Linked DNA regions of Homo sapiens: region 1 is linked to region 2. The links come from fine-mapping of genetic effects on gene expression. A gene starts in region 2. The other region holds a variant in brackets. All regions are shown on one strand. Distances are from middle to middle. Region 1 has its middle 28 kb from the start of FBXO7. Region 2 holds the start of SYN3 (synapsin III).

What was found. PIP is the estimated chance that this variant, and not a neighbour inherited with it, causes the effect.
Region 1: its variant is fine-mapped to the expression of SYN3 in cerebellar hemisphere (GTEx, PIP 0.93).

What each region holds. Positions count from the first base shown.
Region 1 is chr22:32,500,114-32,505,483 of GRCh38, forward strand. No RefSeq gene overlaps it. Among named protein-coding and RNA genes, the nearest start is that of FBXO7, 28 kb to the left of the region's middle. RefSeq lists enhancers at 1,420-2,106, 2,107-2,793. The variant G/A (reference allele first, on the strand shown) is at 3,041.
Region 2 is chr22:33,055,493-33,060,862 of GRCh38, forward strand. It overlaps SYN3 (synapsin III), which reads right to left and starts at 2,889. Exons shown (of 14, transcript NM_003490.4): 1 at 2,800-2,889.

The DNA of each region.
Region 1 (5,370 bases), 560 kb before region 2:
GTGCTGCTTTCCATCCTCACCTCTGACTAACTTGCAGACATTACAGATCTCACTTAGTTTAGGATATCAGCAGTGGCCTAAACCTAAATTTGCAGATCTCTCACAATAGTTTTTTTATAATTCTTAAGACGATCCTCAAAGCATTTGCTCTTGAAAAGCTGAATTTATGGTTAGAAGCTTGTGAAATCCTACATTCTTGTCATTAAACTGAGACTGTTGAGCTGTATGTATTGCTGGTGTATAATGAGAGGAAAGTCGTAGTTTCACAGTAGCCTATTCACTGCACAATTTTCTGAGATCACCTGGATGTATTGTCATGGAAGCAAGCAAGAGAGTTTAGAGTGCCACAGCAAGCAAAGCATCTTAGTAAGATGTGGTTCAACATCACTGATTTGTCCTATGCCTTTCTGTAGCCCCTTATTCCCCCCAACTTTTTTTTTTTTTTTGAGATGGAGTCTTGCTCTGTCGCCAGGCTGGAGTGCCGTGGTGCGATCTCGACTCACTGCGACCTCTGCCTCCTGGGTTCCAGCGATTCTCCTGCTTCAGCCTCCTGAGTAGCTGGGACTACAGGTGCCCGCCACCATGCCCAGCTAATTTTTGTATTTTTAGTAGAGATGAGGTTTCACCATGTTGGCCAGGATGGTCTTGATCTCTTGACCTCGTGATCTGCCCACCTCAGCCTCCCAAAGTGCTGAGGTTACAGGCATGAGCCGCTGCGCGTGGCCTCCTCTTTTATTAACAGGAGCTTTCTCTGCCCCATTCCCCCCATTTATAAATGAAAGATAACAGGTTTTATGTGGCTGGGAATCAAATCATGGAAGGTGTCCTTCCAACTTAAGATTTTGAGATTCCTTGTGTAAAAACTGTTGAAGTCTGACTCTTCCTTGGTAGCTGCCTGATTACAGAGCTTCAGAGAGGAGCTGGGCAGGTCCCGGTGCTCTGCTGTGCCATATGCATGAGCAGTGCTCCTTTGGGTAGTCTTCAGTTGACTGTAGAAGGTGTGGAGTGGATAAGATTATTGGGAAGTACTGGGTAAGTCACATAGAACAAAGATTTGATTTAAACTGACTAGCTTAAATGTCACTCCTGGCCGGGCGCGGTGGCTCACACCTGTAATCCCAGCACTTTGGAAGGCCGAGATGGGCGGATCACGAGGTCAGGAGATCAAGACCCTCCTGGCTAACATGGTGAAACCCTGTCTCTACTAAAAATACAAAAAATTAGCCGGGCGTGGTGGCAAGCGCCTGTAGTTCCAGCTACTCGGGAGGCTGAGGCAGGAGAATGGCGTGAACCCGGGAGGTGGAGCTTGTAGTGAGCCGAGGTTGCGCCACTGCACTCCAGCCTGGGTGACAGAGTGAGACTCCGTCTCAAAAAAAAAAAAAAACACAAAAAAGTCCCTCCTGAGATTCCCAATAGGTTACAGCACTTAGTTTCTGCTAAGCCATAGCAAAACATAGTATGTTAACTGAGTGCCAAAGAATGGTGACCTTGCTTCTGCTCTAGACTCAGTGAAAGACCGTGGAGAACAGACACTTAGAATATGAGAGTCTGGAAACAAATTACAGTTGGGAAGACCAATCAGTATAAAAATAATGAAAGGGATTGAGGATTTTCAAGGATTAAAACACGTGTAGCCAGGTGCAGTGGCTCTCACCTGTAATCCCAGCACTTTGGGAGGCCTAGGTGGGAGGATTGCTTGAGGCCAGGGGTTTGAGACCAGCCTGGGCAATATAGCAAGACCGCATCTCTATAAAATAAAGTAAGTGTATTTCATACACACATTGTGGAAAGAATGTTTAGTTTTAGATTGATTTCCCTTGCAGGAATGCCTCACCAGTTCCAAAAAATATTTCCCAACCACTTTCTTCTTTTCCTCTTGGCCTGCCAATTCATCTCAATACAAGGTCTAAGTGTCCACAGCTCATCTCTTTCAGCTGCGTGTCTCGTCCATGGAAACGGGAGCCTCTGTGTCTCTTATGCATTGTGTTTGATAAATGGACGACTTTAACTTACTTGATGCCCAGCCTTCCAATTTGTCTCCTACCAAACCAAAAGTGCTGCCTTCTATTAGAGTCCAGATATTAGACTGAACAGTTAATCAGCAGCAACTTAGGAGTGAGTCTAGGACAGCTTTTGACAATATAGTTAGTAACCAGCCAGCTTGCTTGCCCTCTAGGATAAAGGAAAAGCGGAGACTCTTTTAAAGTGCTCTCAGGCAATGAGCTCTGCTCCAGGATAATTAAGCCACCACTTGTATCTGCAAGGCTGACTTAATGAGCTTAACCCGTGACTAACCTGCATCCTTTCACCAATTCAAAACACATAAAATGAGCCACCAGTGTTTTACAAAGTTGAATAAAGCATAAGAGATTAGTCTGCCCTCAGGGGCTGGAAGGGGCAGAACCTGAAAGGACACTGTGTGCTCCTGGGCTGGTTCGAGCTGAGGCTGTGCTGTTTGGAACTCTGCTGTGTTTGTTGTGTGAAGCACAGTCTGTGTGCTTCCTTTCCTTGGTCCCAGACCTTTGCTGCTTAAGCTGTGGAGTTGTCCTGGTCTGCTCACTCCAACCTCCCTGACCGATGCTGACAATGGCATCTCCCCTACAGCTCACAGCCCTGTAGTCACCTCACCTTCTTGGGGGCTGTCAGGCCTCTGAGCCCAAGCCAAGCCATCGCATCCCCTGTGACTTGCACGTATACGCCCAGATGGCCTGAAGTAACTGAAGAATCACAAAAGAAGTGAAAAGACCCTGCCCTGCCTTAACTGATGACATTCCACCATTGTGATTTGTTCCTGCCCCACCTTAACTGAGTGATTAACCCTGTGAATTTCCTTCTCCTGGCTCAGAAGCTCCCCCACTGAGCACCTTGTGACCCCCGCCCCTGCCCACCAGAGAACAACCCCCTTTGACTGTAATTTTCCATTACCTTCCCAAATCCTATAAAATGGCCCCACCCCTATCTCCCTTTGCTGACTCTCTTTTCGGACTCATCCGGCCTGCACCCAGGTGAAATAAACAGCCATGTTGCTCACACAAAGCCT[G/A]TTTGGTGGTCTCTTCACACGGACGCGCATGAAATTTGGTGCCATGACTCAGATCAGGGGACCTCCCTTGGGAGATCAATCCCCTGTCCTCCTGTTCTTTGCTCCGTGAGAAAGATGCACCTACGACCTCAGGTCCTCAGACCGACCAGCCCAAGGAACATATCACCAATTTTAAATCAGGTAAGCGGTCTCTTCTTACTCTCTTCTCCAACGTCTCTCACTGTCCCTCAACCACTTTCTCCTTTCCACTCTTCAATCTCTCCCTTCTCTTAATTTCAATTCCTTTCATTTTCTGGGAGAGACAAAGGAGACACGTTTTATCCGTGGACCCAAAACTCCGGCGGCGGTCACGGACTGGGAAGGTAGCCTTCCCTTGGTGTTTAATCATTGCAGGGACGCCTCTGATTATTCACCCACGTTTCAAAGGTGTCAGACCACGCACGGACGCCTGCCTTGGTCCTTCACCCTTGGCGGCAAGTCTCGCTTTTCTGGGGAAGGGGCAAGTACCCCAACCCCTTCTCTCCTTGTCTCTACCCCTTCTCTGCTTTCCTGGGGCAGGGGCAAGTACCCCTCAACCTCTTCTTCACCCTTAGCTGCTAGTCCCGCTTTCCTAGGGGGCAAGAACCCCCCAATCGCTTATTTCCACGCCCCAACCTCTTATCTCTGTGCCACAATCGCTTATTTCCGCGCCCCAACCTCTTATCTCTGCGCCCCAATTGCTTATTTCCGCGCCCCAACCTCATCTCTGCGCCCCAATCCCTTATTTCCGCGCCCCAACCTCTTATCTCTGTGCCCCAATCCCTTATTTCCGTGCCCCAACACTTTCTCTGCTTTTCTGGAGGGCAAGAAACCCCCACCCCTTCTGCGTGTCTCTACTCTTTTCTCTGGGCTTGCCTCCTTCGCTATGGGCAAGCTTCCACCTTCCATTCCTCCTTCTTCTCCCTTAGCCTGTATTCTTAAGAACTTAAAACCTCTTCAATTCTCACCTGACCTAAAATCTAAGCGCCTCATTTTCTTCTGCAACACCGCTTGACCCCAATACAAACTCGACAGTAGTTCCAAATAGCCGGAAAACAGCACTTTCAATTTTTCCATCCTACAAGATCTAAATAATTCTTGTCGTAAAATGGGCAAATGGTCTGAGGTGCCTGACGTCCAGGCATTCTTTTACACATCAGTCCCTTCCTAGTCTCTGTGCCCAGTGCAACTCGTCCCAAATCTCCCGCCTGTCCCCTCAGTCCCAACCCCAAGCGTCGCTGAGTCTTTCTAATCTTCCTTTTCTACAGACCCATCTGACCTCTCCCTTCCTCCCCAGCCTGCTCCTTGCCAGGCCAAGCTAGGTCCCAATTCTTCCTCAGCCTCTGCTCCTCCACCCTATAATCTTTTTATCGCCTCCCCTCACACCTGATCCGGCTTACAGTTTCGTTCCGTGACTAGCCCTCCCCCACCTGCCCAGCAATTTACTCTTAAAAAGGTGGCTGGAGAGCTAAAGGCATAGTCAAGGTTAATGCTCCTTTTTCTTTATCCCAAATCAGATAGCGTTTAGGCTCTTTTTCATCAAATATAAAAATCCAGCCCAGTTCATGACTTGTTTGGCAGCGACCCTGAGACGCTTTACAGCCCTAGACCCTAAAAGGTCAAAAGGCCGTCTTATTCTCAATATACATTTTATTACCCAATCTGCTCCCAACATTAAATAAAACTCCAAAAATTGGAATCTGGCCCTCAAACCCCACAACAGGACTTAATTAACCTCACCTTCAAGGTGTGCAATAACAGAAAAAAGTTGCAATTCCTTGCCTCCACTGTGAGACAATCCCCAGTCACATCTCCAGCACACAAGAACTTCCAAACGCAACCAGGCGTTCCTCCGGAACCTCCTCCCCCAGGAGCTTGCTACACGCGCCGGAAATCTGGCCACTGGGCCAAGGAATGCCCGCAGCCCGGGATTCCTCCTAAGCCGCGTCCCATCTGTGCGGGACCCCACTGAAAATCGGACTGTTCAACTCACCTGGCAGCCACTCCCAGAGCCCCTGGAACTCTGGCTCAAGGTTCTCTGACTGACTCCTTCTTGACTTACCGGCTGAAGACTGATGCTGCCTGATCGCCTCAGAAGCCCCGTAGACCATCACGGATGCCGAGCTTTAGGTAACTCTCACGGTGGAGGGTAAGTCCGTCCCCTTCTTAATCAATACGGAGGCTACCCACTCCACATTACCTTCTTTTCAAGGGCCTGTTTCCCTTGCCTCCATAACTGTTGTGGGTATTGACGGCCAGGCTTCTAAACCTCTTAAAACTCCCCAACTCTGGTGCCAACTTAGACAATACTC
Region 2 (5,370 bases):
TAAGCACATCCACCCTTCATTCATTTCACTCATTTAAGAAATATGTGCTAAACCCTGTGGTAGGCTCTTGGGATGAAGCAATGTATGATCCCCTGGAGTCTGCAGTCTAAAGGGGAGGACCAACAATAGGAAAGTAAATAAAATAGATAAATGACTGTTACGAAGGGAGAATAAAAGGGAGGGAGTACAGAAGGCCTTTCCAAGAAGGTTATATTGAAACTGAAGGCAAGGAGTCAATTGGACAAAGAGCCTGTTATTCTCTATCACATACTGGCTATGCAATGCAATGTTCCACCCCTCAACACTTGCTTTTGATGAATCCAAGCATTTAATGTCTATCTCCTCTAATAGACTGAGCTTTCTCCCCATCACCTAGGATAGCGCCTACTCCTTAAGAGACACTCAATACACATTGATTGATTAATTAGTGGATGAATGAATGATTAATCAATCAATCCACCAATGAAAGCACTTTGGAAAGTGTAACAAATCATAGAGTTGTGAGTGATTGTTATTATTATAATTATTATTTTGTGGCAAAAGAACATCAACTTGGTTGGGTTTTGGAAGAGACTGGGTTTACTATAAAATGAGAATAAAAGTACCTAAGTTGGAGTATTATTGGACAACTAGAAGAGAATGTATATACATAATAGACACTCAAAAAAGGGAAGCAGTAGTCTTCGTGGCTATTATTATTAAAAGCTCCTCACAAAAGCTGACTCAACTCGAATTCCAAAACTCATTTTCAGGTGCAGTCATGAAACTTAAAGGTGAGAGAAATGAATACTTTTAAGATATCTACTATGCACCAGGCACAGTACAAAGCACTACTTCATTTGTGAGGTAGTGTAGTGGATACCGTGGGGAAATGCTCAACTCCCCCTCCAAGACCAAGACACTCATGACTTCCCCATGTCCAGCTGCCAGAGTGTTGGTTACCCCAGCTCCCAGGTGAGTCCCTAGTCAGGAACTGTCCTGCTGAAGGGACATCCTAGCTCCCTCCCTAGGACCAGCCTGCACCCACTGGCTGATCAACATTAAGCTTCAAAGGCCTCGTCTCTTTGTCTCATGGGAGGGATTGAGACCTCTCTTGCACTGCACCATAGATCAACATCTCCCTCTGCCCAGTTCTGCTTCCCTTATCTGCACAAAAATCTCAGAAGCGCCAAGTCTTTTTCCAGGGAACCCAAACCATGACAGGTGAGTACAATGATTTCCTTTTAAATCAGAAAAAGAAGGTTCATGAAGGTTGCTAATGTCCCCAAAGCCTATGGCTAAAGTGACTTTCTGGTCTGATTTCCCAGCGAGCCCTTGTTCTTTCTACTACACCAATCTACACACAGCCTTGCCTCCAATGGCTGAGACTGGATCTCTGTGAAACAGAAAGGGGAGCCCAGGCAGAGGGGAAGGGCACACAGAGGGCTTGAAGATGAGAAAAGAAGAGCAGAGGCACCCTTCAGAGGCCTGATGACAAGACTGAGGTCACAGGCTCCAGAAACAATATCAAAATGATGTGCAGGCTGCAGAAGCAAGCATTACACGGGCAGCATCTCTTTGCCTGAATCCATGTCCAGAAGCCAGGGAGCAGGGCTCCCGGGCAGAGGGGGCTCCCTTAAGCAGGGAAGAGTATTTGCAGCCAAGGACCAGAAAACAACTACAACTTACCAGCTTTCTGATGCTCCGGCCTCCATCCATTGTCCCCAGAGCTGCCAGAGGGACCTGATCACTGATCAGAATTCTTCCACGGCCCTCCTTCATTCCAGGATAAAATTCTAAATATTCTAAGGCTGCACTTTAAGGTCTGTGCAGGTTTTAGCTTCCTGCCATGTCGAGAGCTCATTTCCTACCTACAGCAAGACCCGGTCCTACTCCATTATCTGCTGTAGAATTATCTGATGTGCTAGGTCAGGACACCGGACCTTTTCAGTTTCTTTACCTTTACACAAGAAAACCCACCTGGAATTCCTGCTCCCTATCAACTCACAGTCCCAACACACTTTTCAGCCTGGCAAAACCTCCGACTTCCAGTCAATGCTCACCTCCTCTCTGAAACCTTCCTGGCTTCCTCACCGTCCTCTTCTCCATCTCGAGTCTTCCGCACTACCCTGCACTGCAATTGCTCCTCCTACTGTCCCTCTTAGCCCCAGAAGCTCCCCAAAGGCCATTCTTCATGCTGCTAGGGCTTGGCACAGTTCCTGGCACTCAGAAAAAGCCAAGTAAGTGCTGGATAGATACACGAGGTGCTGTATCCATAGCTATTCTCTGCTTCTAGCTTGGCCAGGAAACCACTCTGAAATTTCATCCTGCCCCCAGGATGACTGGAAATCGGAAATGGCATGACAAACCTGACCTCCCAAACCCAAGGCAACAGGTCATGAGGGGTCTGGGGACCTAAGGCAGGTCCTAGGAGCCGGCGCAGAGCAGAGGTCCGGCCGCTGCGGTTCCTGGTTTCCCGCAAGCTCTTCCCCGGGCCGGGCGCTGGGTGGAGGCAGTCTTAGGATCCACAGTCTTGCGCGCCCCCGGCTCCCGGGCCCGGCAGACGGCCCCCGCACGCCGATCTGTCTGTCCCAGGGACCGGCCCAGGGCCCCGGCAGCGGCAGCCTGGGGAGACACCGTGGTGCGCGGCTCCTTGCCTCCCTCCCTGCCCCTCCGTGCGCCCGCATCCCGCGGACACAGAGCCGGAGCTCCAGGGGACGCAGCCCGACGCGAGAACGCACCAGCAGCCCCCGCTCGAGGTGGGGTCTCCCGGCTGTCAGAAACCCCACAAAGTCTACTTTGCGGCGCCGCGCCGCTTACCGTGCGAGCCGCCAGGAACTCGGCGCCCGGTGGTGCCTCGGCGCGGCGCCCGCCAGTCGATCCGCTCCGGGTCCCGGGAGCTCAGCCTCTGCCCCTCAACGCGCGCGAGCGCCCCCGCCCGGCGGCCCGGCCTCCCCGCGCCGCGGCGCCCCATTGGCTCGGGCAACGAGGCCCCCGGACGGCCCCGCCCACCCGCGCCCACTCCCTCGCCCACGCCTCTCCCCAACGCCTTGCTGGGTTCACCTCTCCAGGCAGGGAAAGTTGCTTCTAGACTCTGAGCTCTCACCGGACTCAGGAGCCCAGTTAGCTAATAATTCTGGGTCCCAGGAGTGTCTAGACGCCCCTCGGGGAGTGCGAAGAATGCAGTGTCCTTGGAATCCACCTTTGGGAAAGTCAGCTGACCTCCCGGACCTCAGGTGGCACCTCAGAGAAACCAGGGCCCCTTGTCAGGAAATGTCCCAGGTTGTGGGCTAGGCCCTAGGGCCAGGATGCAACAGGGAACAAGACAAAGTCTATCGTCCTCGTGGACTTTGCATGGGGTGGAGGTGGGGGTAGGTTATATACAACAAACGAAAAAAACAAGAGAATGTCGGCTGGGTGCCTGTGGCTCACGCCTGTAATCCCAGCACTTTGGGAGGCCGAGGCAGGTGAATCACGAGGTCGGGAGTTCAAGACCAGCCTGGCCAAGATGATAAAACCCCGTCTCTACTAAAAATACAAAAATTAGCTGGGCATGGTGGCCCTCACCTGTAGTCCTAGCTACTCGGGAGGCTGAGGCAGAATTGCTTGGACCCGGGAGGTGGAAGTTACAGTAAGCCGAGTTAGAGCCACTGCACTCCAGCCTGGGCAACAGAGCTAGATGCCGTCTCCAAAAAAAAGAAAAGAAAAAGAAAGGGGTCTAGGACTGCTATACCTAGGGTGGTCTCCGGGCCGCTTGTGATATTGGATACTTGGAGGACAAAAACGATTCCAGGGCTGAAGCAAGAGCATTGCTGACAGAGGGGTCGGCCGATGCATGGTTCTGAAGCTGGAACTGGCCCCCAGGGTGGCTGAGTGAGGTGAGCAAGGGGAGAGTGGGTTACAGCCAGAGAGGTAGACTAGTGTGGAATCACCATCACCCAGAACCTTGTAGGCCACCGTGAGGGTCAGGGCTTTGTCATATCAATCTGGAGGGAACAATTCAGGCAAGAGATTATGGTGATGAAGACCAGGGTGGTGACAGCAAGATACGGAAAAGGTGGACCTCCTGCAATGTGTGTCAAAAGTAGCACAGGAAGGCTTGATGATGGATTAGGCTGGATTTAGGGGATGCTATGGTTTAAATATGTTCCCCAAAGTTCATATCTTGGAAACTTAATCCCCAATGCAACAGTGTTGAGAGGTGGGACCTTTAAGAGGTGATTCCATTAATGCCAGGAGTGGCCCTCTCCCCACCCCTCTGCTGCTCTCTTGTTCTGCCTTGTGCCATGGGGTGACTCAGCATGAAGGCCCTTACCAGATGCAGCCCCTCAATCTTGGACTTCCCAGCCTCCAGAGCCATGAGCTAAATAAATTGTTGTTCCTTATAAATTACCCAGTCTGTGATATTCTGTTATATTGGCACAAAATAGACTATGACAGGGGTTGACGTAAAGGGATGAAAGAAGAAAATCTCCTAGGTGTTTAGCTTGAGCCACTGTGGAGTAATGGTACTATTTCCAAGATCGGGAAGGTTCTTACCCAGCATCTTCCACTTACTGCATGAGCGTTAGTACATGATCTCAGTAACTAAGAGGGAGTGACTCTAACCTCAGTAACTAAGAGGGCATAAGACTAGCTGAAGGATCACAAACTTTAATACCGACGTGGCCGGGTAGTCATGTACTAAGTGAGGTTGGCAGGGTATAATAGAAAGGAGGGATGGGGCTTGTGACAGACTGAGGTATGCACACCTGCCTAAGGTGACAGTCACTGCTCAGCTCCAACTGATTTTTGCCATATGTGAATGGAGACCCACCCAGAGTTGCCAGATGTTCTGTTTTTTGTTTGTTTGTTTTTTATCGAGACTGAGTCCTGCTCTGTCACCCAGGCTAGAGTGCAGTGGTGCGATCTCAGCTCACCGCAACCTCCGCCTCCCTGGTTCAAGCAATTCTCCTGCCTCCCAAGCAGCTGGAATTACAGGCGCCCACCACCACGTCTGGCTAATTTGTGTATTTTTAGTAGAGACAGGGTTTCACCATGTTGGCCAGACTGGTCTCGAACTTCTAACCTCGTGATCTGCCCACCTTGGCCTCCCAAAGTGCTGGGATTATAGGCGTGAGCCACCACACCAGACCCTGATTTTTATTAAGAGGCCAGAAATTCAGATTATGTTAAATCTCTGGTTTTTTTAAATGCTGGTAATTAACTACAACTTTTTTTTTTTTTTTTTCTGAGACGGAGTCTCGCTCTGTCGCCCAGGCTGGATTGCAGTGGATTGTCGAGATTGCAGTGGTGCAATCTCGGCTCACTGCAAGCTCTGCCTTCCGGGTTCACGCCATTCTCCTTCCTCAGCCTCCCAGGTAGCTGGGACTACAGGCGCCCGCCACCACG